Linked DNA regions of Homo sapiens. Each later gene encodes a partner of the first gene's protein in a complex. Each region holds a gene or a part of one and is shown on either strand. Other genes may lie near its edges.

What was found.
Region 2: EXOSC8 (region 1) and EXOSC4 share a complex: the UniProt entries of both Homo sapiens proteins name them as parts of the RNA exosome core complex.
Region 3: EXOSC8 (region 1) and EXOSC6 share a complex: the UniProt entries of both Homo sapiens proteins name them as parts of the RNA exosome core complex.
Region 4: EXOSC8 (region 1) and EXOSC2 share a complex: the UniProt entries of both Homo sapiens proteins name them as parts of the RNA exosome core complex.

What each region holds. Positions count from the first base shown.
Region 1 is NC_000013.11:36,996,714-37,003,811, reverse strand, and holds the start of EXOSC8 (exosome complex component RRP43), read right to left. Parts: upstream 3,027-7,098; 5' UTR 3,007-3,026; coding exon 2,990-3,006; intron 1,540-2,989; coding exon 1,503-1,539; intron 1,325-1,502; coding exon 1,261-1,324; intron 879-1,260; coding exon 805-878; intron 1-804. Other genes in the region: ALG5 (dolichyl-phosphate beta-glucosyltransferase), read left to right, coding at 4,512-4,577. UniProt on the Homo sapiens protein: Non-catalytic component of the RNA exosome complex which has 3'->5' exoribonuclease activity and participates in a multitude of cellular RNA processing and degradation events.
Region 2 is NC_000008.11:144,074,162-144,081,168, forward strand, and holds EXOSC4 (exosome complex component RRP41), read left to right. Parts: upstream 1-4,510; 5' UTR 4,511-4,567; coding exon 4,568-4,738; exon of another isoform or gene 4,739-5,781; coding exon 5,782-5,988; exon of another isoform or gene 5,989-6,080; coding exon 6,081-6,440; 3' UTR 6,441-6,487; downstream 6,488-7,007. UniProt on the Homo sapiens protein: Non-catalytic component of the RNA exosome complex which has 3'->5' exoribonuclease activity and participates in a multitude of cellular RNA processing and degradation events.
Region 3 is NC_000016.10:70,246,248-70,249,087, reverse strand, and holds the end of EXOSC6 (exosome complex component MTR3), read left to right. Parts: 3' UTR 1-2,310; downstream 2,311-2,840. UniProt on the Homo sapiens protein: Non-catalytic component of the RNA exosome complex which has 3'->5' exoribonuclease activity and participates in a multitude of cellular RNA processing and degradation events.
Region 4 is NC_000009.12:130,689,163-130,696,812, forward strand, and holds the start of EXOSC2 (exosome complex component RRP4), read left to right. Parts: upstream 1-4,617; 5' UTR 4,618-4,629; coding exon 4,630-4,751; intron 4,752-6,329; coding exon 6,330-6,431; exon of another isoform or gene 6,432-6,444; intron 6,445-7,650. UniProt on the Homo sapiens protein: Non-catalytic component of the RNA exosome complex which has 3'->5' exoribonuclease activity and participates in a multitude of cellular RNA processing and degradation events.

The DNA.
Region 1 (7,098 bases):
CTTCAGGCAAGTTATTTAACCTCTTACCTTAAACTCCTCATCTTGTCAAATGGGAAGAAAATAGTGTCTACTCCTAGGGACTGTTAATAAGGGCCAAATGAGATAGACCTGTTAAATCCCAGGCATAAAACCTGACAAGGAGCAAGTTCTCAAATCTTACTGTTATACATCACTCCAGGTTTACGAAAGAAGAATCTCAACTGAGGTTAAATAACACAGGGTATACTGTAGTCAAAGAAGCACAGGCTTTGGAGTCAGATTTATGTCTAAGTTTTACTTATGAGTCTTATGTACCTGGACAGGTTACTGAAAGTCATCTGTAAAACAGGAGGTGAAGACAAGTAACAAATGATTGTTATAGGCATTAAAGTGGATAATTCTGTAAAGCACCTAAAAAGGTGTCTGGAACATAGCAAGTACTCAGTAAATGGTAGCCAGTATTCCCTCAAATTTTTCTTTTCAACAATTTCAATTTTCTACACATTTACACAGATTACATGTCATCACTGGCTAAAAGGATGTCACCAAAAATCTGTTAATGTCTCAAATGATATAACAATTTTTTTAAAATGGTGACTCAGATTTTAAAAGTTGTTTCATTTTGCTACATTTGACAATTGTTCACTTAGTCATTAAACTTGGGTCATATTATCTAACACTCATAGTGAAAGCTCTTGGGAAATTAAACATTAAAAATTGACACCCAACTACCAAATCAAGAGTAGAATTACAGGTGTATATTACAATCTAATAAATAAAGCTAACTTTGTAACTCAAATCTCAATAGGACATATTTAGACTTACTGCTTTAACTCCACAGATTACTGTAGTATTTCCCAACTTCACTAAAGCAGAACCATCTGCGGTACTAATTGAACCTGAAAAGATAAGCAAAATGAAAGGTTCATAAAAGGAAAACAGCTACAAAATTATCCACATAATAATTAAAATTAAGTGTTTTAGTTTGCTGTGTACGATTATCTTGCTACCCCTCTCAGTTGCTTATGAATATTTCAAGTTAGAATAATTGATTTTTACATAACTATTTTAAATTAGTGTTTAAATAATTATTCACCTGTCCTTGAATTTGTGTTAATCATTTTTCATTTAGTTACAGGGCTTTTGTACGGATAAAAATCTCTTGACAAAAAAAATCATCAAATCCTTTAGACAAAGAATTTGGGTGAAAAACTGTTTGGCTGGTTCATAGACTAAAACTTGGGAATATCATACAGTTGAAAGTGGAAAATACATCCTTACCGATGTTGACAGTTGTGGTTCTGAATTCACCAAGTTCTCTTCCATCAGGACGGCAGTTCTCTTTCTAAATAAATATGTTTATATAAAAATAGATTATACCTATTACATATTTTACACATCTATCACAAGTTTTACACACACATTAAATGTTACTTCAAATGGATTAATTTAAATTACTTGAAATTCATCTTTAAAAGCAGCTCGTTATCAAAACGCATAACATGTACATAACCTTTACTCACCAGAAATCTCCTGTAATACTCCAGAGGTTCCACGGTTCTGAAACACGTGTTAAAAATATATCTGAGATAAACTGATGAATCTTAACATAAATCCAGAAATTGGCAAAGATCTTAAGTGTGGTGATGCAGCATAAATCTCCACAACTTTTTAACTAAAAGTAATTCTAGAAAGTAAAAATCCTTGTAGTAGCAATCACATTCAATTGCTGTCCTTAACTCTGCCATAAACGATTAGAAGATTGGCGTCTAAAAGCCCTTTGAGTGAGCTCTTTAAAAGCTCAATCTGTGTCAAAAGAATCATGTCGTTCTTGCTCTGAAACAAGGATTCAGAGTGATCTAGTGATCATGAAAAAAGATTATTTTAATAATCTAGTGATCATGAATAGTTAACCTCTTACTAGATAACTCAGGAAACAAAAAGGTACATCTTTATTTTCACTGTAAGTGAAATTTAGCATATTCTTCAATTATGACTGTAAGCAATAAGCCATAGTAACATTAGCAGTACCTGCAACTTTAACAACCACGGAGACCACAGATGTTTTCGTTTGCACCCTTTAGCTGTGTAAGGTATGTTCAGGCTCACCGTTACTTTGAAATCCCAGGAGTTACTACTAGTCTCGCCACTAGATCTTGTTTACGAAGGTTAATTTTAAACCAAGTATATATACTACTATATCGTGTCTTCGGAGTTTATACTCATAGATAACTATTTCAACATAATGGATTTCCTTTGGAATCCTATTTATTTTATCCATTTTTTAAAAACTTTAAGAAAGTCCACTGGCTTCACACACACAAAAACCTTCCAAACGAGGCATGATCCTTTTAGAAATAAATTACGGGAGAGGGAGAAGCAGGCGGTATGTGGTTCTGATGCAACAATCTTGATTGATTGATTCTGACAGAGTCTCACTCTGTCGCCCAGGCTGGAGTGCAGTGGCGCGATCTCGGCTCACTACAACCTCTGCCTCCCGGGTTCAAGCGATTCTCCTGCCTCAGCCTCCTGAGTAGCTGGGACTACAGGCGCCCGCCACCACGCCCGGCTAATTTTTATATTTTTATTAGAGACAGTGTTTCACCATGTACACCAGGCTGGTCTCGAACTCCTGACGTCAGGTGATCCGCCCGCCTCGTCCTCCAAAGTGCTGGGATTACAGGCGTGAACCGCCGCGCCCGGCCACAATCTTTAAAAGATTACAACTATGTCTCCTGGGACTGCACGTTCACTACACACCACGCTCACGAGCGCTCGCAGCGGGTATGGAACTCTACAGAGTCCTTTCATCTCCCGTCTCACTGAGGAAGAAGCCCTTTCTTTTCACTGTGACAACCTCCAGGTCCTCCCGCCCATCGTCTGCCTCGACGAGGAAGGAAATGGCACCCCAACGGGGTCGGCCTCCAGGTGAGAGAATCCCAGCTAAGAGTTAAAGGAAGCTGCCGTCCGCCAGGGTACAGAACTCTACCCGCCACCCGCCAACACTCACTTGAACCCAGCCGCCATCTTCCCGCCCGCGCGTCTGCGCCTGCGCCGCTCCTCTCCTGCGCGCCTGTTCCGCCGCCGCACTTTCGACACGGATGCCGGGGCCGCTCACGCCACGGGAAATGCCAAGGTGGGGACGCGACGAAAGGTCCCTGGCCCGCCCTCGCATCGACTTTCCCCTGCCCAGACGCCTTTCTAGGTTTCCTTGCCTTGGACGTATTTTGACGAATCTGCTGTTAAAGAAGGAGCGGGTCTCCCTCTTTATAAAAGAGCTGGTGCTGTGACTCAGAATAACACCAACAGTTCGGAGATAACAGGGTTTCTAGCGCAGAATCAAGCAGTGCGTGTGGAGCGTTATTCCAATGTTTCTGCGTCTTTTTTCTGCCTGTGACTTAGGCTCAGCCCTGGCCTTGCCTCTTCACTGGTCAAGGGCTCCGTGCTCCAACACATGAGAAACCTGAACTTTTTTTTTTTTTTTTTTTGAGACAGAGTCTCGCTCTGTCGTCCAGGCTGGAGTGCAGTGGCGCGATCTCGGCTCACTGCAAGCTCCGCCTCCCGGGTTCACGCCATTCTCCTGCCTCAGCCTCCCGAGTAGCTGGAACTACAGACGCCCGCCACCGCGCCCCGCTAATTTTTTGTATTTTTAGTACAGACGGGGTTTCACCGTGTTAGCCAGGATGGTCTCGATCTCCTGACCTTGTGATCCGCCCGCCTCGTCCTCCCAAAGTGCTGGGATTACAGGCGTGAGCCACGGCGCTCGGCCGAGAAACCTGAACTTTCTGTGCGCTCATTGTCCGCACCACGTTCTGCTCTGCAGGTCCCGGAGCTGAGGGCTCCTAAGCATCACCTTGTGTTGTAGACTGTGTCGTGCTCAAGGCTGCCATCTCCCTCCTAGGTGGGGTTACCAGATAAAATACAGGATACCACGTTAAATTTGAATGTCTGATAAACACAGCGTGGTTTTTTTGTTTTTTGTTTTTGTTTTTTTGTGGGTTTTTTTTTTTTTAAAGCATGAGTATGCCCCAAATAGAGCATGCAATTAGTTGTTGCCAGAACCTGGAGGGAGCTGGGAAGGCTTTACAGATAGATAGTGGTGATGGTTGCACAGTATGTATGTAATTAATGCCACTCACTATTGTAAACTTAAAATGATTAAAATGGCAACTTTTTATTTTACCACAGTTTATAAAAACTAATGTAATAAACCAGAAACCTGTAACTGGATGAGTCGTATGGTATGTGGCTATCTTAATAAGGCTGTTAAAAACATGATTAGTTTTTTAATCTGAAATTCAAATTAAGTAGACGTCTTGCATACTTGATAAACCTGGCGCCCCGCTGTGGAACCTAGCGCTCCTCTCCACCGACTGGGCGCCGAGGGCACGAGAGCGGCGTTTTCTCCGCCTCGCCACGCGGGGGCGCTGCGGCCAGCGGGCGCGACCTCTCTGGCGGCGGGGCCGGGTCGCGCGGGCGCGCTTCCGCCTGTGTGGAGGTGCGGGATTGGGCGGGCTGCCACGGCATGGAGAATGGCTCCGCTTCTGTTGCAGCTGGCGGTGCTCGGCGCGGCGCTGGCGGCCGCAGCCCTCGTACTGGTGAGAACAGGGATGGGAACCCGCGCAGGCCGGGGCTTACCGCTCTCCTGGAGACTGCGGCTCCTCAGGCGTCCCCTCCTCCGCGCTACCAGTTCTCGGAGAAGTCCCTTTTCCCCTAGATTCCCCCAAATTCCTGACCTCGGAGTTTCCTGGAGTTTCACTCTCCTTTTCTTCGGTTCTTTAATTTTCCCTTGGAATCTTATCTCTTTGTGTGCTCAGAGACTTGTAAGTTTTTTCACACTGGAGCGCACCCACCCGGCCTGGCATCATCGCCGCTTCCATCGCCCCTGGCGCCCGCGCCCCCTACCCACCTCCTCTGTCAACCTCGACCTCTCCCAGACTCTCCGGGACCTGCAGCCGCTGCAGTTCTGCTCCACCCAGGGAGGTCTCGAGCCCCCAGAAGGGGTGTGCTCCCTAGCCTGCTCCCTTGGCTGATGTGGTTAAGCAAATAGGGGTGACGGAGCCTTGACGGCAGCCATCTGTTACAAATGGGAATAAATGCGTGGATCGATGAGACCCACTAGGGACGCAGGGTGAGCGAGAGAGACAGGCCTCAGGCGCCTTGTCCGGGGTCGCATTGTGTCCCAGAATTAAGCACCCTAAATATACTGCCCCTAAACAAGGCAGGACGATAGAATGCAAACTCGATTGTCTTTGCCCTTGCTCTCGAAACACAAAAACATTGTAAACACTTGCTGATTGTTAAGTGGTAGAAAATTGGCGAACTCTCTCCCGCACACCTTGGAATGAGCCTGCCCTCTAGTTAGTAAGTGGAGAGGATTTCAGCTTCCTTGACATTCAGATTAGCCACCTAGACAGCACTGCCAGGAAGGCCACTCTGCCATCTTTCCAGAGGTTGTATAAATTTACAGTTTAGATAAAATGTAATGCATCCTTACTTCTTTGTTGATAGTATCTGGGTGAGAGAGGAGTCCTCTCTTGCCCTAACTAGTAGAGATTTCAGGGTTTAGGGCTTTTTTGTTTTTTCAAGTTTTTGAGCAAACCAGGATTGATTGATTGATTGATTGATTTTTGGCGGGGTGCGGGCGGGGAGTGGATTCACACATTCTTAGATTGAAGCTGCCTTACTTTGGGTCTTTTGCACAGATTTTATGGGATTGTACTGACGGTATTTGTTCCCACTAGCTTGAAGTGATAAGAGCTACCATTTATTGATTGTAGTACTTACTATATGTTGTGTTGCACTTGGTTTAATAGGAGTTATTAAATCTTTAACACTGTGACATATATGTTATCATTAGCATTATTTTACTGGTGAGGAAACATGTTGGAGAAATGAGCTCGTGTACTCAAATGTTGCACAACTAGTGAAACTTAGGTTTTTTAAATGCCAGAGCAAGAAATCATTAAAAAAATAATTTTTCAAAACCTCATCCTGTCTTCATATGTATCCACTCTCCATTACTCACAGTCTCACCTCCTTTCTGAATTATTTTAAAACAACTCGAAGACATTTTATCTTTAAATCCTCAGCATTTATTTCTAACAGATAAGGTCCTTCTTTTTAAAATACCACAATAAAGTGGTCACAGATTTAAATTTATTCTGTGATTTCAAATGCCCCCTCAGTTCACTTGCCCTCACTTGTCTCATATATGTCTCAGTATATATGTCTGTTTGTTCCAATCAGGATCCAAACAAGTGCCACACATTGTACTCTGTTGATGTCTTGAGTCTCTTAATCAGTTGACAGTTTCTCCTCCCCCTTTTTTTCTTTTCCTTGTCTTTTTTTTTTTTTTTTTTTTTTGAGACGGAGTCTGGCTCTTGTCACCCAGGCTGGAGTGCAGTGGTGTGATCTTGGCTCACTGCAACCTCTGCCCTCAAGCAATTCTCCTGCCTCAGCCTCCTGAGTAGCTGGGATTACAGGCGCCTACCACCACTCCCGGTTAATTTTTGTACTTTTAATAGAGATGGGGTTTCGCCATGTTGGCCAGGCTGGTCTCGAACTCCTGAACTCAGGTGATCCACCCTCCTCGGCCTCCCAAACTTCTGGGATTACAGACATGAGCCACCGCGCCCGGCCTTTTTCCTTGTCTTTAATATGATCATTTGTCCTGTAGAACTTCTCACAATTTGGATTTCTTTGATTGCATCCCCTTAATGCCTTTTAACATCTTCTATCTCAAATTTTCTATAAACTGGTAGTTAGGATGGAGAGACCTGATCACATACATACTCGATGTGTTTTTTAATCAAGAAAAAATTGTGAGTGATGCTTCTTCCTTTCTCTTGTGTCTCATCAGGAGTCATGTAATGGCCATTTGTCTCTGGTGTTAAGATGGATCTGTGGTTTCAAATGTTGCCAGCCAGACCCACCAGTTTATAAAGTTTGTCATCAGCCTAATGGTTTTAGTAGTCATTGAGGATCATTACCTAAATGCTTTATTTCATTGCGGGTTGCAAAGTGAAATATTCTCATTGTATCCTTCATTTATTACCTAGAGTTTTGTAATGAAAGAAATCTCATCCTCAGCTATTCATTTACCCTAAAATACCTTTC
Region 2 (7,007 bases), on another chromosome or scaffold:
AGAGTCATATATTTCGTAAAATTTGCAAAAGTGAAATATTTTAAACACAACCAGCTAAAACTGTCTCTTCCCCCTGCAACCTGCCATCAGTTACCCCCATCAGTTACCCCCTCCCCTGCTGCATAGAGCTGGAGGGGGTGTTGTGGGGTCCAGCTCCCGGGAGGTTGAGTTGAAGCTACGTTTTGCTTGGGCTTAGCGGGAACAGTCACTTCCCGATACAGTTATGCTATCGCTAGTCATTCTGGTGTAGAAATGGCTTCCGGAAACACCCACCTCCCTCGGCTGCATGTCATGACACAACAAGCTGATGAAATTGGCCAAGTGCCAACTCAAAGAGGATCTAAGATTAGTCACAAACAAGAAAACCCAAACTCAAATTCATTTTTTTGGGGCGGGGGGTGGTTCTGGGTTTTTTGGTTTGTTTTTTTGAGACAGCCTGGCTCTGTGGTATGGGCAGGAGTACCGTGGCACGATCATAGCTCACAGCATCCTCCAACTCCCTCGGCTCAGGCCACCCTCCCGTCTCAGTCTCTCAAGTAGCTGGAACTACAGGCGTGTGCCACCATACCCAGTTAATTTTTAAATTTTTTTTTGTAGAGATAGTGTGTCACTATGTTGCCCAGGCTGGTCTCGGACACCTGGCCTCAAGCGATCCTCCTGCCTCAGCTTCCCAAAGTGTTGGATTACAGGCACGAGCTACCTCACCCAGCCAAGCCCTGAACTGTTATGGCTCATATGTGGAAGAAATTTGATAAGCGGTTTCCTCCAATTTAATGACAATTCTAAAAATGTACATATTACCCAAAGGAGCTTTTACCTGAAAGCAACTTAATTATTAGTAATAAAATTAAATTTTGATCAAACATGTGAGAGGAGAAACTAAATCATTTTCTTGGTTTTTGTTTATTTGTTTTTTGTTTTGACAGGGTCTCATTCTGTTGCCCAGGCTGGAGTGCAGTGGTGTGACCACAGCTTACTGCAGCCTTGACCTCCTGGGCTCAAGTGAGCCTCCCACCTCCACCTCCCAAGTAGCTGGGACCACAGGTATGCACCACCATGTCCAGTTAATTTTTTTTTTTTTTTGAGACAGAGTCTCGCTCTGTCGCCCAGGCTGGAGTGCAGTGGTGCGATTTCGGCTCACTGCAACCTCCGCCTCCTGGGTTCACGCCATTCTCCTGCCTCAGCCTCCCGAGTAGCTGGGACTACAGGTGCCCGCCACCACGCCCGGCTAATTTTTGATATTTTTAGTAGAGTCAGGGTTTCACCGTGTTGGCCAGGATGGTCTCGATCTCCTGACCTCGTGATCTGCCCGCCTCGGCCTCCCAAAGTGCTGGGATTACAGGCGTGAGCCACCGCGCCCGGCCCATGTCCAGCTGATTTTTTGCATTTTTTGTAGAGATGGGGTTTTGCCATGTTGTCCAAGCTGATCTTGAACTCCTAGGCTCAAGTGATCCGCCTGCCTCTGCCTCCCAAAAGTGCTGGGATTACAAGCGCGAGCACCGCGTCTGCCATATTCTTTCTACATATAGAAGGTTACGTTATAAAAAGGTGTTGTCATCTTAAGAGAGCATCAGAGAACGCATCAAAGAAATGTAGGGGAAACCTGTTGGAGTCAAATATGTCAGGCAGGTTTTCTGCATTTTGTGATGTTTGTAGTATTTGACAACTTTTAAAATGTTTGTTATGTGTTGGGACTTCTTTTCTCACTATTCACTTAGTTTTGGATATACAATTTTGTCTTATGTTTCAAAAGAAGACTGCATAGAAGAGTTAACAGCAGGCCTGAGAAGCTCTTCTTCACAGGCAAGTTTGAAGAGTGGGTGTCTGGGAACTTGGGTTTTTCATGGTTCCCCCACTCTCTGGTAAGCGTGTCTCACTGTGCCTAGACTGTTTGTACAAATATGGCTCATGCTGAACACCTGTGTTGCTTCTAGGGGTCTGGAATTTGGGCACATGCTTGGCACAGACTGTGTATGTGACCAGCCCTCCATAAAACCCCAGGGCGCTGAGTGTCTAAGAAGCTTCCCTGGCAGACAGCATTTCACACACACGGCTCCAGCTTCTTCCCGTGGAGTCCACCAGGAGAGGACGTGGCCAGCTCACGCCTGATTTCCTGTGGAATTCATCCCATGCACCTTTTCTCTTTGCTGATTCAGACTTATATCCTCTCTGTGTAATAATCTTAGGCGTGAAGACAAGTCTATAGTGAGTCCTTCTAGCAAATCGGTTACTCTGGAGGGGTCTTGGGGATACCTCTCACGGCCCCTGAATTTGTATAAGCTTTAGGCCTCCAAAATTTGAATCGACCCATGTGTGTACCCTAAAGCTGGAGTACGAGGGTCAGAGAACCAAAGGTGTGAGGTAGGAGTGGCCCCATAATCCTAAACCTGTAATGCTGCCAGGTTGGAGGCCTGGTTCCTGAAGATGAATACTTCCACCAGGGAACACAGCAAAGGTTCCACTGATCTTGAAGTAGCGGCTATCACTGGCCCACTTTGGACACCTTAGGCTGAAGACCAACATCGTCCTCATTGTCCTGAGTTGCTACGGTCAATGCTACACAACTGGGGTGGGCAGTCCACAGAGCTCCCTGGGCGTCTAGTCTTCCCGCATGCGGCAAGGACTGTCAGTGGACAACCCAGTAATGGCCATGCGTGGTGGCGGGAGGCCGAGGCAGGTGGATCACCTGAGGTCAGGAGTTCAAGATCAGCCTGGTCAACATGGTGAAACCCCATCTCTACTAAAACTACAAAAAAAAAGTTAGCAGGGCATGGTGGTGCATGCCTGTAATCCCAGCTACCTGGGAGGCTGAGGTAGGAGAATCGTTTGAACCCAGGAGGTGGAGGTTGCAGTGAGCTGAGATTGTGCCACTGCACTCCAGCCTGGGTGACAGTGAGACTCCATCTCCAAAAAAAAAAAAAAAACCTTAGCCAGGCATAGTGGCAGGTGCCTGTAATCCCACCTTCCCAGCTACTTGGGAGGCTGAGATAGAAGAATCACTTGAACCCTGGAGGTGGAGGGTGCAGTGCGCTGACATTGTGCCACGGCACTCTAGCCTGGGTGCAGAGTAAGACTCCATCTCAAAAAACAAAACAAAACAAAGAAACAAACGAAAAAAACGATGACTCAGTAAGAACAGGGACAGTAAGAGCTCAGACTGAAAGGGGAAAAGGGCTCCACAATAAGCAGAGTGGCTGTAGAGCAGAGGGTGGGGAATCCGGGGTGGCAAGTGGCAGAGGGTGGTGACCCATCATGGCCTCAGACCAGCTGCAGCAGCAGGGTTGTGGCTTGCTCACTCACTCTCATGCCTCAGTCTTTCAGGAGAGCTTAACCACCTTGGAGGGGATGCTGTGACAACTGAACTTGGGCCCCTGCAGCAGACCACATTTCCCTAGCCCGCCTGCTCTTCCTACAGTCTAATATTGACACTCCTCCCACTGAAGGGTGGGGTCCCTGTCCTCATCCCTTAAGCCTGGGCAGATCTGTCTGACTGCCTTGACCCACAGAGTGTGGCAGGAGGGACACTATGTGACTTCTGAGGTTAGGTCCTAAAAATACCATGCACATGTTGTCCACCTTGTTGTCCTGGAAGGCTACCCTTGGAACCCAGTTGCCATACTGCAAGGAAGCCCTGGTTGCATGGAGAAGCCACATGTAGGTGTGCTGCCTGACAGGCACAGATGAGGTCCTGGCCCGCCACCAGCATCAGCCACCAAAGATGTGAGGGAGAAAGCTTTAGGATGGCTGCAGCCCCAGCTACCATCTGGCAGCAACTGTAGGAGAGATCCTAAGTGCAAACTATCTAGCTGAGCCTAGATAACCCCAGATTGCAGCACATAATAATAGAATGATTTTTATTATTTGAAGCCGCTGAGGTTAAGTGGCAAGAGATAAACAGACATACAACCCCTCTCTGGAAAGGATGAGGAAATCTGCATCCTCAAAGGGAAAAGGGAGGCCCACCTGACTGCAGTGTGGAAGCTCGGTGTAAAGGGAGGGCATGAGAGGACTGGAGAGGTGCCAGGTGTGGACCATCCTGGGACACCAGCCTGGTCACTTTCCTAGGACCGCTCAATGCCTTCTCCTGTCAGTGTCGCACCCCACTGGGTTCATCCTTCCACTTTCACACTTGGGGCGCGGGGAAGGGCTGAATGCAGGCACCACTGGTCACGAGGGCGTGACTGGGCAATTCCTCCTTCGGCGGGCGCCCACCTCCTGGCACCCGTGGCACAGCTCCGGGAACGGCTGCGGGCCCAGCCGCTGCTTCCCCGATAGCGCCGCCGCAGTTCCCCGGAGACAGAAGTAGAGCCGGACCGCCGGAAACCGTAGATCCGGGGAGGTCGGGGCCGCGGTGAACTCCAGTTCACCAGGACAGGAAGTGACAGCGGAACGCCGGAAACCGCAGATCCACGGAGGTCAGGGCCGCGGAGAGCTGTAGTTCCCCGGAACCGGAAGTGATGGCGGACCTCCGGAAACCGTAGATTCCGGGCGGTCGGAGCCGCCGGGAGCTGTAGTTCTCCCGCGGCTCAGAGAAGTAGGCAGAGAGCGGACCTGGCGGCCGGGCAGCATGGCGGGGCTGGAGCTCTTGTCGGACCAGGGCTACCGGGTGGACGGGCGGCGCGCCGGGGAGCTGCGCAAGATCCAGGCGCGGATGGGCGTGTTCGCGCAGGCTGACGGCTCGGCCTACATTGAGCAGGGCAACACCAAGGCACTGGCTGTGGTCTACGGCCCGCACGAGGCGAGTGGGCGCGCGGGATGGGGAATCGTGTGGCCGTGGGAGCTGCGGGGCAGCCGGGCTGAGCGCTGGCTCGGGGACTTGAGGGGCAACGGCCGGCGCGCCTCAGTCTACACAGCCGATGCTCAGCACCGCATCTCACTCGGAGTAAACGCAAGTCCTTAGTGTGCTGCGCGGTGGTCCTGCCTTTCTCATCGGCCTCTGTCCCTGCGCCCTCCTTCCTCTTTGCGGCTCTTCAACGTGCTAGGCACTCCCCCACTCGCTCCCTCTCCTTTCAGCTCTACTCCGACGTCACTCCTTCCCAGACGACCTTATTATCCACGCGGTACTTCTCGCCCTACAATAAACCCTTTGTTTTGTGCACCTACAATCTCAAATGCCTATTTTGCTTAAGCATTTTCCCCTTTGTTTCCTCGCTGGAACATAAGCTTCCTAAAGAAAGGAACTTTACATAAAACTATCTGGTTTCATTACTGTGCTTCCAGCGCTGTAACTGCCTGGCCAGCGAAGGTATTGAAAGAGTGTTTGCTTAGCGCATGAGTGTGGGAGCTCTGCTTTCCAGGCGGAGGGAACCAGAAGGGCGAAGACCACGGTGGTGAAAACAAGCAAGGCACTTATGCAGAGCAGAAAGACTGCTGGTGGGGAAAGAGGGGATAACTCCAAATCAGGTTGAGGGTTCCCGGGGAGGTGAGGACTTAGGGTTTTGTAGAGTAGGGAAATGATTTGGGATCTTATTTCATATGTAATGTGAAACCTTTGTAAGGTAGTTAGGATTTGAGTGTGTAGGTGAGACAGAAGCAGCGTTGATGTTTGTAAACTTGGGTTGGCAGGGAATGGGGCAAGGATGGACACAAGGAAGCCAATTAAAAGGTGCCAGAGGGCGACACATGCAAGACAGAGAGCGCAAAACAGGGGGCTTTGTTTTGGAGGTAACGCAGTTGCCCCTTGCTGAGGCATTGAAAGTGGAGGGAGAGGCAGACCCACAGAGGACAGTGGAGTGTGAGCTGGAAGGAGTGGGCCTGGCTCATGTGTCTGTCCTCTTCCAGATCCGGGGCTCCCGGGCTCGAGCCCTGCCGGACAGGGCCCTAGTGAACTGTCAATATAGTTCAGCGACCTTCAGCACAGGTGAGCGCAAGCGACGGCCACATGGGGACCGTAAGTCCTGTGAGATGGGCCTGCAGCTCCGCCAGACTTTCGAAGCAGCCATCCTCACACAGCTGCACCCACGCTCCCAGATTGATATCTATGTGCAGGTGAGCCAGCTGCAGCCGTCAATCCAGGGAGGGAAGGGTGTGATGGGGTTGGGGAGGGAGTCTGATAGACTGACACCCTGGGTTCCCTGCAGGTGCTACAGGCAGATGGTGGGACCTATGCAGCTTGTGTGAATGCAGCCACGCTGGCAGTGCTGGATGCCGGGATACCCATGAGAGACTTTGTGTGTGCGTGCTCAGCTGGCTTCGTGGACGGCACAGCCCTGGCGGACCTCAGCCATGTGGAGGAAGCAGCTGGTGGCCCCCAGCTGGCCCTGGCCCTGCTGCCAGCCTCAGGACAGATTGCGCTGCTTGAGATGGATGCCCGGCTGCACGAGGACCACCTGGAGCGGGTGTTGGAGGCTGCTGCCCAGGCTGCCCGAGATGTGCACACCCTCTTAGATCGAGTGGTCCGGCAGCATGTGCGTGAGGCCTCTATCTTGCTGGGGGACTGACCACCCAGCCACCCATGTCCAGAATAAAACCCTCCTCTGCCCACACACCCCTCACTGTACGTTATCACCTAACAGCACTTCAGAGCCATGTGAAGGCTGGCAGAGCCTGGTCTGGTGCTGGCTCCTGGGGATGATTAGGGACCCTCGCCCACACATGAACGGCCTATCTCTGTGTAGCCTGATTCAAACCCTGAAGAGAACAGTGGATTAGGGGGTTTCTGTAGGGGAGGCCCTGGGTGGAAAAAGCAGCATGTCCCAGTAAGGACTCAAGGCAGCTGAGCAGGAGGCAGGGCCTGGCAAGATGAGCCAGGCCATTAGACTGAGGAATCTGTTACCCTTATTCCAGCACATCGGGGGCCCTGAGCAAAGGGCTGAGGAAGAACTCAGCTGGCTCTGGGTACCCACCCTAGGGATGTGGGGGCCATGTCCCACAACCTCTGGACTATGGTTTGGAGCCCCCTGGGCTTTTCCTGCTGCTTACCTTGGGCTCTGAAAGTACAACAGCCAGGCATGGTGGCTCACGCCTGTAATCCCAGAGCTTTGGGAGGCTGAGGCAGGCGGATTGCT
Region 3 (2,840 bases), on another chromosome or scaffold:
GATTTTAAGTGATTAAATTATGGTATTGTTGTGTCTGGAATATCTGATATTAGGGTTTTTTTTTTTTTTTTTTACAGTTTTTGATATGCTTTATTTTGGGTATGTAGTTTACAAAATATAAAGGAAATATAAGGAGTGTTCTCTTTTTTTTTTAAATAAAAAGTGTATTTTTAACTGGGCATGGTGGCTCACTCCTGTAACCCCAGCACTGTGGGAGGCTGAGGCTGGTGAATCGCCTGAGTCCAGGAGTTTGAGACCAGCCTGGGCAACAAGGTGAAACCCTGTTTCTATCAAAAAAAAAAAAAAAAAAAAAAAAGGAAAAAAAATAAGTCAGGCATGGTGGTATGCACCTGTAGTCCCAGCTACTTGAAGGCTGAGGCAGGAGGATCGCTTGTGCCTGGGAGGTTGAAGCTACAGTGAGCTATGGTCAAGCTACTGCACTCCATTATAGGCAACCCTATCTCAAAAAAGCAAAGCAAAACAAAACATTTTTCCCCTTGATTATAGAGGTTTGAGAAAAATTTGAGGGAAGATTCAGAAAATTACCTGTAACTGAACAGAATGCCACCAGCTTGGGCTTATTCTGCATGCATAATTATGAACATTTTCCCAGCTCTTGTGAAAATTCTCACATTCATAGAAAGATAGATGCACCAGTAAAATAAATACCTGTAAATACGATAATAATTTCATAATAATATGCTTCACCTAGATTTACCAGTTACTAATATTTTGCCAGTTTTATTTTCTCACACACTTTTGTTGAGCATCTGAAAACCATACACATGATGACAGTTCAACCCATAATGTTTTAGTTTGCATCTCCCAAGAATAAGGTTTTTCTTCTGTATAACAAGAATATTGTAATCATACCTAAGAAAATGAATTTTATTACATATGTGTTCTATATTCAAATTTCTGTAATTACCCCTAAGATGTCTTTTAAATGATTTTTAGCATTGATAGTCTGTGCCTGTGTAGATTATAACATTGGCTATTGCAAAATAATGGTTTTCTTTTTCTCTTTTTTTTTGAGACGAAATCTTGCTCTATTGTCCAAGCTGGAGGGCAGTGGCACAATCTCGGCTCACTGCAACCTCCGCCTCCCAGGTTCAAGCAGTTCTCATGCTTCACCCTCCTGAGTAGCTGGGATTACAGGCAGGTGCCACTGTGCTCTGCTAATTTTTATATTTTTAGTAGAGACGGAGTTTCATCGAGCTGGCCAGACTGGTCTTGAACTCCTGACCTCAAGTGATCCACCTGCCTCGTCCTCCCAAAGTGCTGGGGTTACAGGTGTGAGCCACTGCACCCAGCCTAAAATGATGGTTTTCTGATTCTAGCATTTCTTTTATAAGATTGCTATGTAAAGCACAGCTTTTCTTTTTTTAGGGAAAAATGTCTTTTAACAGCTGCAAAATAAATATTCTTTCAATGGAATGACAATTATTATTTTTGCCATATATTTATTTTAAAAATTTATGTATAATGGTAACCTGAGCCTGCATGTTATTCATGTGTGGTGCCATACTGATCTTTAATTTTAATGTGAAGCAAGTACTAATATAGTAAAGCATAAATTATATAAAATTTGCTTTATATTTTGGATTGCAAATTAATTGCTGTACTTTATAGAAAAGTTTCCCAAATCCGTTTTACTTTTTTGTATTTGAAATTTAATCACAGGTGGAATCTTAAAGAGAGCATTTAGGGATATTGTAAACAGATGTTATTAAGGACTAATGTTAACAAACATTGAAGAAGAGAAAACAGTATTTGTTTTTAGCTTAACATCTTAGTGGAGTGAAATATTTTCAGTATATTTATTTTATTTATTTATTAATTATTTTTTTTTTTGAGATGGAGTCTGGCTGTATTGTCCAGGCTGGAGTGCAGCGGTGCAATCTCAGCTCACTGCAACCTCTGCCTCCTGGGTTCAAGCGATTCTTGTGTCTCAGCCTCCCGAGTAGTTGGGATTTACAAGTCAATTTTTTTTTTAACTAAAACTACAGAATCTATTTTTCTTGGTCTCATACTCAGTTTTTTATGTAGTCACTTAGTAAATAACCTAATTTGCTTGTTTTCTCCACACTAATTTTAGGGTGAATTCCTCATTTCGCTTTTCAGATCATGGGGTGAGGGGGATGGTTGTGTGTGTGAGGAACTGAGGAATCAGATGGAAAACAATGCCTCTGCTCCTTTGAGTATAATCAGTGATATTTGAGGTTCCAGGGTTAAATGCTGCATTTTTATTTCTGACGTTCGTACCTTAAAATATTTGAAGAAAATAAACTATTTCATTGTTGTCAGAAATGTAGTTCTTTTATTTTCCTGCCCCTCTCCCCTTTCTAAGTTTCTAGAATGTTGAGTAGGTAGAACATAGATGCTCCTTTTAGGATCTTTTGCTGTGGAATGGTCCACAGGTGAATGGCAGTAATATCTTAAAATGATTGGCCCCCTCTCTCTTTGTTTCCATCAAGGATACAGTTGATATATTAGTTGGATGGCATATAGATCATACTCAGAAACCTTCGCTCACGCAGCAGGTATCTGGTAAGTCTTGCAGCCTATACCAGTTATTTAAATACTGTCGGGGAGGAGCAGTGGTCCCCCAGTGACCATCTATCAATAACATTTCTTTAATAATGCAAGAAAACTAATTCAGAGAAATGTTATATTGTAAATGAACATTACTTGTTAGCTAAATATATATTTTCAGAAGAAATTACTAGTAGGTGGGTAGAATAAGTACAGACAGGACTTACCCAAGTTATTTGTAGTTTGTACTGGTAGGAAAAAGTATATGGTAAGAATATATTGCAGTGGCAATACCCTGAAGTGGA
Region 4 (7,650 bases), on another chromosome or scaffold:
CCTGGATCTAAGCATTGATATATGATGAACAGAATAGATAAAGTCCCTGTTTTCAGCAATGCATGTTCTAGTGGGGGGAGACTGCAATCAATGAACAAAAAAAAAAAAAAAAAGAAAGAAAATTGAAGCCCAGGCATGGTGGCTCACACCTGTAATCCCAGCACTGTGGGAGGCCAAGGTGGGCAGATCACTTCAGGTCAGGAGATTGAAACAAGCCTGGCCAACATGGTGAAACCCCGTATTTCCTAAAAATACAAAAATTAGCTGGGCGTGGTGATGGGTTCCTGTAATCCCAGCTACTCCGGAGGCTGAGGCAGGAGAATCTCTTTAACCCAGGAGGCAGAGGTTGCAGTGAGCTGAGATCGCGCCATTGCACTCCAGCCTGGGTGACAAGACCAAGTCTCTCTCTCAAAAAAGAAAGAAAAGAAAAGAAAAAGAAAAATCAGTGACAAGAAGTAAAACAGGATCAAGGGATTAAAAAAAAGGACTGGAAAGTTATTCCAGATAAGGTGATCAGGGAAGTCTTCTCTGAGGAGGTGATGTTTGAGCAAGCCATGAGTGAGGAGAAGGAGCCAGCCACACAAAAGCCTGGGAGAAGAGAATTCATGCAGAAAGAGACCAGAGTGAAGGGCCCTGGAGTGATGAGAAGCTTGGTGCTGTGGAACCGAGGGGAAGCCAGCTAGTCTTGAGGCAGGAGAATAGGGTCTGGAGGCAGGGAACATAAGGCTGATTCACACTGACTTTCTAGAACTAAATCAAAAGGAAAACCCCAACTTTCCACGTCCAAGTAACCAAAGGACCAGAGGCTACTCCCTTTGCAATCCCAGCTTTTCTGTGTGCAGATGAAAAACTGAAAGTACCTCTGATTGCTCCCTTCCCACTACCAGTCAGGCTGGTAGGTGGCCAAGTCTTCATTTGCATGGGAGTATAACTTTGTAACTTCACTTCAGCCTCTGATTGATAACTTTCCACAGCCAATCAGACATTGGCGTAGGGTGTAACTTTTAACTTCAGCCTCTGATTGGCCACTTTCCACAACCAATCAGACTGATCACGGGCCACTCCTTCATTTACACAGGGCGTACACCAAATAACCAATGGGAAACCTTTAGAGGGTATTTAAACCCCAGAAACTTCTGTAAGGAGCCTGTTGAGTTTCTTTGCTTGAGCTGTTCTTGCCCTGTAGAGTGTACTTTCGTTTTCAATAAATCTCTGCTTTTGTTGCTTTATTCTTTCCTTGTTTTGTCTGTATGTTTTGTCCAAGACGCCGAGAAGCTGGGCACCCTCCACCGTTAACAGTCCGGCTGCAGCATAGTGAGTAACGCAGTGGGTTAGGACGAGCGTGAGGTCAGAGACAGGCAGGAGTCAAGAAGTGCTGGAAGCAGAGAAGTGATTTAATCTGTTTTTAAAGCTCTCTCTGGCTGCTGTGCGGAGATTGGATGATAGGAAGGACAAAAGTAGAATTAGGAAGACAAGCTAGGAGGTTATCTCCCTGGTAAGAGATGCCGTTGATCAGCCTGGGGCAGTGGCTGCGGAGATGCACAGATGTGTGGCATCAGTGAATCTTAGACCTTTTCCGCCATTGAAATTACATAGGGAGTTAAAACACGCACAGACTTCTGGACCTTACCTTTGCAGAGCCTTGTGAAAGGCAAATAAATCTTGGGGCCCCAAAATCACTAAGCTAAAGGGAAAAGTAAGTCAAGCTGGGAACTGCTTAGGGCAAACCTGCCTCCCGTTCTATTCAAAGTCACCCCTCTGCTCACTGAGATAAATGCATACCTGATTGCCTCCTTTGGAGACGCTAATCAGAAACTAAAAATACAAAAAATGCAACCATTTGTTTCTTTTTTCTTTCTTTTTTTTTTTTTTTTTTTTTGAGACGGAGTCTCACTCTGTCGCCCAGGCTGGAGTACAGCGGTGCGATCTCGGCTCACTGCAAACTCCGCGTCCCGGGTTGAAGCCATTCTCCTGCCTCAGCCTCCCGAGTAACTGGGACTACAGGCACCAGCCACCATACCCGGCTAATTTTTTTTTTTTTTTTTTTTTTGTATTTTTAGTAGAGACGGGGTTTCACCGTGTTAGCCAGGGTAGTCTCGATCTCCTGACCTCGTGATCCGCCCACCTCGGCCTCCCAAAGTGCTGGGATTACAGGCGTGAGCCACCGCGCCTGGCCTCAACCATTTGTTTCTTATCTACCTATCACCAGGAAGCCCCTTCCCAGCTTCGAGTTGTCCAGCCTTTCCAGACCGAACCAATATTCATCTCACATATGTTGATTGATGCCTCATGTCTCCCCAAAATGTATAAAACCAAACTGCGCTCCGACCACCTTGGGCACAGGTTGTCAGGACCTCCTGAGCTTGTGCCACAGGCACATCCTCAATCTTGGTGAAATAAACTTTCTAAATTAACTGAGACCTGTCTCAGATATTCGGGGTTTACAGCCTCAATGCCTAAGGAATCTATACTTTTTACAAGCCCCCTGGGATGTGCTGCTTCGTCTCCGGGTACCCACTTGTCTACTGGTCGTAAAGGGGTAAGTGTGGCCGGGCTTGGTGGCTCATGCCTGTAATCCCAGCACTTTGGGAGGCCAAGGTGGGCGGATCACTTGAGTTTAGGAGTTCGAGATCAGGTTGGGCAACACGGTGAAACCCTGTCTTCACAAGACAAATACAAAAAATTAGCCGAGCCTGGTGGCATGTGCCTGTAGTCCAAGCTATTCAAGAGGCTGAGGTGGTAGGATTACCTGAGCCCAGGAGGACGAGGCTGCAGTAAGCCATAATCGTGTCATTGTACTCCAGCCTGGGTGACAAAGACTCTGTCTCGAAAAAAATAAAAATAAAAAAAGGTGCGTGTGATGATGCAGAAAGAGGAGCACTGGGGATGGGAGAGGGGGAGTCCCTGTCGTTTTGGATTCTAGTCCCAGTTACGGGTCTGTTTGGGGGGCTCGGTGGCCCCAAGTGATCATCAGGGATAGCAATGCCTATCTCGAAGATGGGCTGAAAGTGAGGAATACATAACATAGTATTTGTAAAGCACTCAGCAAAGGACCAGCCGAAGCACTCGGGCTATTTCTGGTAAAGGGTGCAGGCTCTGGGGTAAATCGCGTGCAGTTGGAACACACATCGGCTTTGCAGCCATCTGCTAATGTGAATTCCATTCCTTTTGGGGCCTCGATTTCCTCCTCCATAAACTGGTATCCACAATGCCAACCTTGTGAACGCTGTGAGAATGCGCGGGGTAAAGGCGACGTCTCTCCCTCCCGGGAAGAACTTGGATGGTGTCAGGCCTACACTCTCGCTCCGCCTAGGGCCGCTCGCTGGGCCTGGCTCCCCGGCTGCCGGGCTACGCGAGCTCAGAGGACACCATCGCCCTCTTATGGCCGCGGCAGGACTGGACCGAGGGGCTGGGCTCTAGTGCCTTCCTCCAGGCACGGCAGAGGGCGAGGGTCTGGCAGCCCGCTTACCCAGGGCCTCGGGGCACTAGCATTCATGTCATCGACTGCCTGGCAGGGCTGGCTTTCTTAAGTGTGGTCGTGAGACTTGCTTAAGTGGAAGAAATGCTGTCGCTTTGGAGATTTATAAAACAATTGGCTCGATGGATCTTTCTTCAGGAGGCGGACTTGGTTTACCGGCTTTACTGACCACAGCTGATGCCAATGATTTCATTTAATCGTCTTTAGAGTCCCTGTGCATGGGGAGTTACCATCCCCAATTAGTTTCTTGTGAATGCAGGGCAAGGAGAGGGAGAGGGTAGTGGGGGACGGGGAGAAGGGGCGAGGGGTACCCTCCTATTAAAACGGAGCCGCAGAAAAACCCACAGAGACATCCGTCTGTTCCCCGCTGAGTCCTTAGAACAGCGCCTGGCACACAGAGAGCGCTCAACTCGCTGTGTAACTAAATGCAAGCCAAGATCTTCGCATTGTGTGTGCTCTTCCCTTCCCTACCAAATATACCTGGCTTGCAAGGTTTGACCTGTTTTCTTAGACGATTTTTAACTTGTTTCCAAAAGAAATATTGGAGTAAATTAGCTTGTTCAAAGGAGTCCTTATGAAAGGACAGAACCAAGTGAGAAGTATCTGGAGCCCGGTTTGGGGTTATAGATGATGATGTTGAGCCAGCACCCACGGGGCGGCCGCAATGTAGAATCCTGGCGCTACTGGGAACCGTGTGGAAAGGGGCTCTTCTTTCTGTTCAAATAGTGTTTTCTGTAGATCCCATCTCTCCATCCTCCTGAGCTCTCTCTTACAAAATATCGGATTTCAGCAGCTTAGAATTGGACAGAAACTCAGAGGTCCGTTTCTCAATTATCTCTAACCCTGGTAAACAATAAATGGGATGATGAGTACAAGACAGTTTTGGTAAAAAGTCACACGCCACACAACGTGAGATTTTATTATTCCACGGGTGCTTCCTTGCCAATAGTAGACATGGCAGCTCGGCTCCCTTCCCTTCGGGTTCGCCTTATTGTTGCCAATTGTAAACATGGCCTCTAGGCCGTGAGTTCTCATTGGCAGCTGCTCTGAGTCCCCGCCCTTCCCCGCCCCTCCGAACGCGGCCTGGAGTTGTGGAGTCGGATATCGCAGCTCCCGACTGAGCTGCGCCTGCGCAACTCATTGGCGCCAAGATGGCGATGGAGATGAGGCTTCCAGTGGCTCGCAAGCCTCTTAGCGAGAGACTGGGCCGCGACACTAAGAAACATCTAGTGGTGCCGGGGGATACAATCACTACGGACACAGGATTCATGCGGTACGTGGGGACTTGGGGGAGTCGAGGCTTCAGAGAGCGGCTTCAGGGCTCTCTGCACGTGGTCCAGGCCTCGTATCCCTGTGTGTGTAACTCCCCGCGGGACCCAGGGCACTTCGTCTGAGCATCCTACACACCTCGCTTCCGAGCCTCGTGCTTCTTGCTCCCTGCATCTTGTGTGTCCCCGTCTGCATTTGTCTCAGCTCCCTGAAACCCTCCACTCCTGACCTCCGGTGGCTGTGACTTTTGGGTCTTCTGCCTGAAGTCCAAATCTTTGATCCTTCCTTGTGGGAGACCTGGAAAGCTGGGGAGGGTTAGGTGCAGGCTCTTTTCCAGTTTTCAGCTCTCTGAGGGGACGGTGGGCGTTCTTGGCTGCCTCCTCTTCAGTTTAGAATCCGTAATTGTTCGATCTTAGGGCAAACAGTTACATTGTGCTGCATGCACCCATTTATACACATTTTGAATCTAAGGGGTGTAGTGCAGTGTATTGTGGTTAAGAGGGAAGGCTCTTGAGTCAGACAGTTGGGGTTCCGGTCCTGCTACCATCACATCTTATTAGCGGCATTGCCTCTCCACGGTCAGTTTCCTCATCTGTAAGATAGTGATAATAACAGTATGATACGGTAATGAGGATTAAATGAGACAATTATGTAAGAAAAGAAGTAAAACCAGCCATTATATCATCATAGATAACACTAGTGTTTCAACCTTTATTATTATTATTTTTTTACTTGTATATGTACAAGGGGCACAGCATTCATAGCATTGCCCTTTAACCTGTTAGTTTAAGGTTAGTGGATACCAGGAAATTTTTTTTTCTTTTTTGAGACGGAGTCTGTCTTAGATCAGTCGTGCGATCTCGGCTCACTGCAACCTCTGCCTCCTGGGTTCAAGTGATTCTCCTGCCTCAGCCTCCTGAGTAGCTGGGATTACAGGTGCACGCCACCATGCCTAGCTAATTTTTGGTTTTTTTTTTTTTTAGTAGAGACAGGGTTTCACTGTGTTGGCCAGGCTGGTCTCGATCCCCTGACCTCAAGTGTGATCTGCCCGCCTCGGCCTCCCAAAGTGCTGGGATTACAGGCATGAGCCACCATGCCTGGCCCCTAGGAAATCTTAAGATTCATTCTTTCATTAATGCTTTCAACATATATTTTGTGCAGTTGGGTTATTATGGCAGAGTGAAAAATCTCTGTCCTGGTGGAGTTCTAACAGGGAGAGATAGATAATAAGCGCAATGAATAAGTTATTCAGAATGTTAGGCAATAATGCAATAGGGAAAAAAGTGGAGCAGGGTCAATGGTATGTGGGGGGAATGGTGGCAACAGGGTGGGCTGTGTTTTCAATGGCACAGTCAAGGTAGGCCTGCTGCAGAAAGTGACACCTGAGCAGACCTGAGTGAGAGGAGTGATGTCCAAGTAGCTGTCTGGAGAAGGAGCACTGAAGGCAGAGGGAGCAGCCAGCACAGAAGCCACGCTTTGCAGGGGGAGCCTGTTAGCTTTGAGGAACACGTTGTTCTTGAAGGGAGAGAAGTCATTTCGAGTTACCCTCGTATCCTTTCTTTGTATCTTCGCCTTGCATCAGGGGCCATGGAACGTATATGGGAGAAGAGAAGCTCATTGCATCTGTTGCTGGCTCTGTGGAGAGAGTAAACAAGTTGATCTGTGTGAAAGCTTTGAAAACCAGGTGAGAACAAAAGGTGTGTATTCCCTTTCTTGCAGCATCAGGTTGTACAACCAGGCTTTTCCTGCCCCCTCCTTATCCCCCACCCCACCCCTGCCTGCCCTGTCATGCTGTAAGTCTGAGGTTTTGACCATGACTGTAGGTGGGGTGGTGCAGATCAGTGCAGGCTTCAGAGGTTTCCCCATGTTATGTCACCACTCCAAGCCTTGGTTACCTCCTCTGCAAAGTGAGTATAATAGCATGGCCTACTTCATAGGATTTTCTCTTTTTTTTTTTTTTTTTTTTTCCGAGATGGAGTCTTACTCTGTTGCCGAGGCTGGAGTGCAGTGGCGTGATCTCGGCTCACTACAACCTTCGCCTCCCGGGTTCAAACAATTCTCCTTCTTCAGCCTCCCGAGTAGCTGGGATTACAGGCGCCCTCCACCACGCCTGGCTAATTTTTTTCGATTTTTAGTAGAGACAGGGTTTCACCATGTTGGCCAGGCTGGTCTCGAACTGCTGACCTCTGATGATTTCCCCCCACTTGGCCTCCCAAAGTGCTGGGATTACAGGCGTGAGCCACTGTGCCTGGCCTAGGATTTTCTTTAGAATTCAGTGAGATGGTGCCTGTAAAGTATTTAGCACAGAGCCTGATACCTAGAAGCATTCAATGAAGGTTAGCCCCAGAAAGCAAGCCAGTGGGGTTGGAACAGAGTGAGTGAGGGGGAGAGAAGGGGCAGATGTAAGCAGAGAGCTGAGGTGGGCGGGCGTGGGCCTGCCTTGTAGCCAGAGTAAGCATTTTGGCTTCTACTTTGTGTAATCTGGGAAGCACTGGAAGGGGTGGAGCAGAGGAGGGACTTGATCTGGACTTAAGCTCACTCTGGCTGCTGATGGGAGATTGAAGGGGGATAGGGCAAGCTTAGGGAGGTGGATTAGGGACCATACTCATGATCTGAAGTGATGGTGGCTTCAACTAAGGTGGGAGCAGTGGAAGGTGGAGGAGTGATTGGAATCTACACAGATTTTATTTTCCGAGTGTTTTTTTAAAATCATGAAAAGCTGTTGGGTTTTGTATTCTTTGGGCTTTACTGTGCATAGGACCCCGTCAACTGTGAATAGAAATAAGTTTACTTCTTCCTTTCCAATTTGGATGCCTTTTATTTCCTGCATATGTTTTAAGGGTAGAGCCAACAGGTTTTGCTACTGGACTTGTCCTGGAGCGTGAGAGAGAGAGAGGAATCAA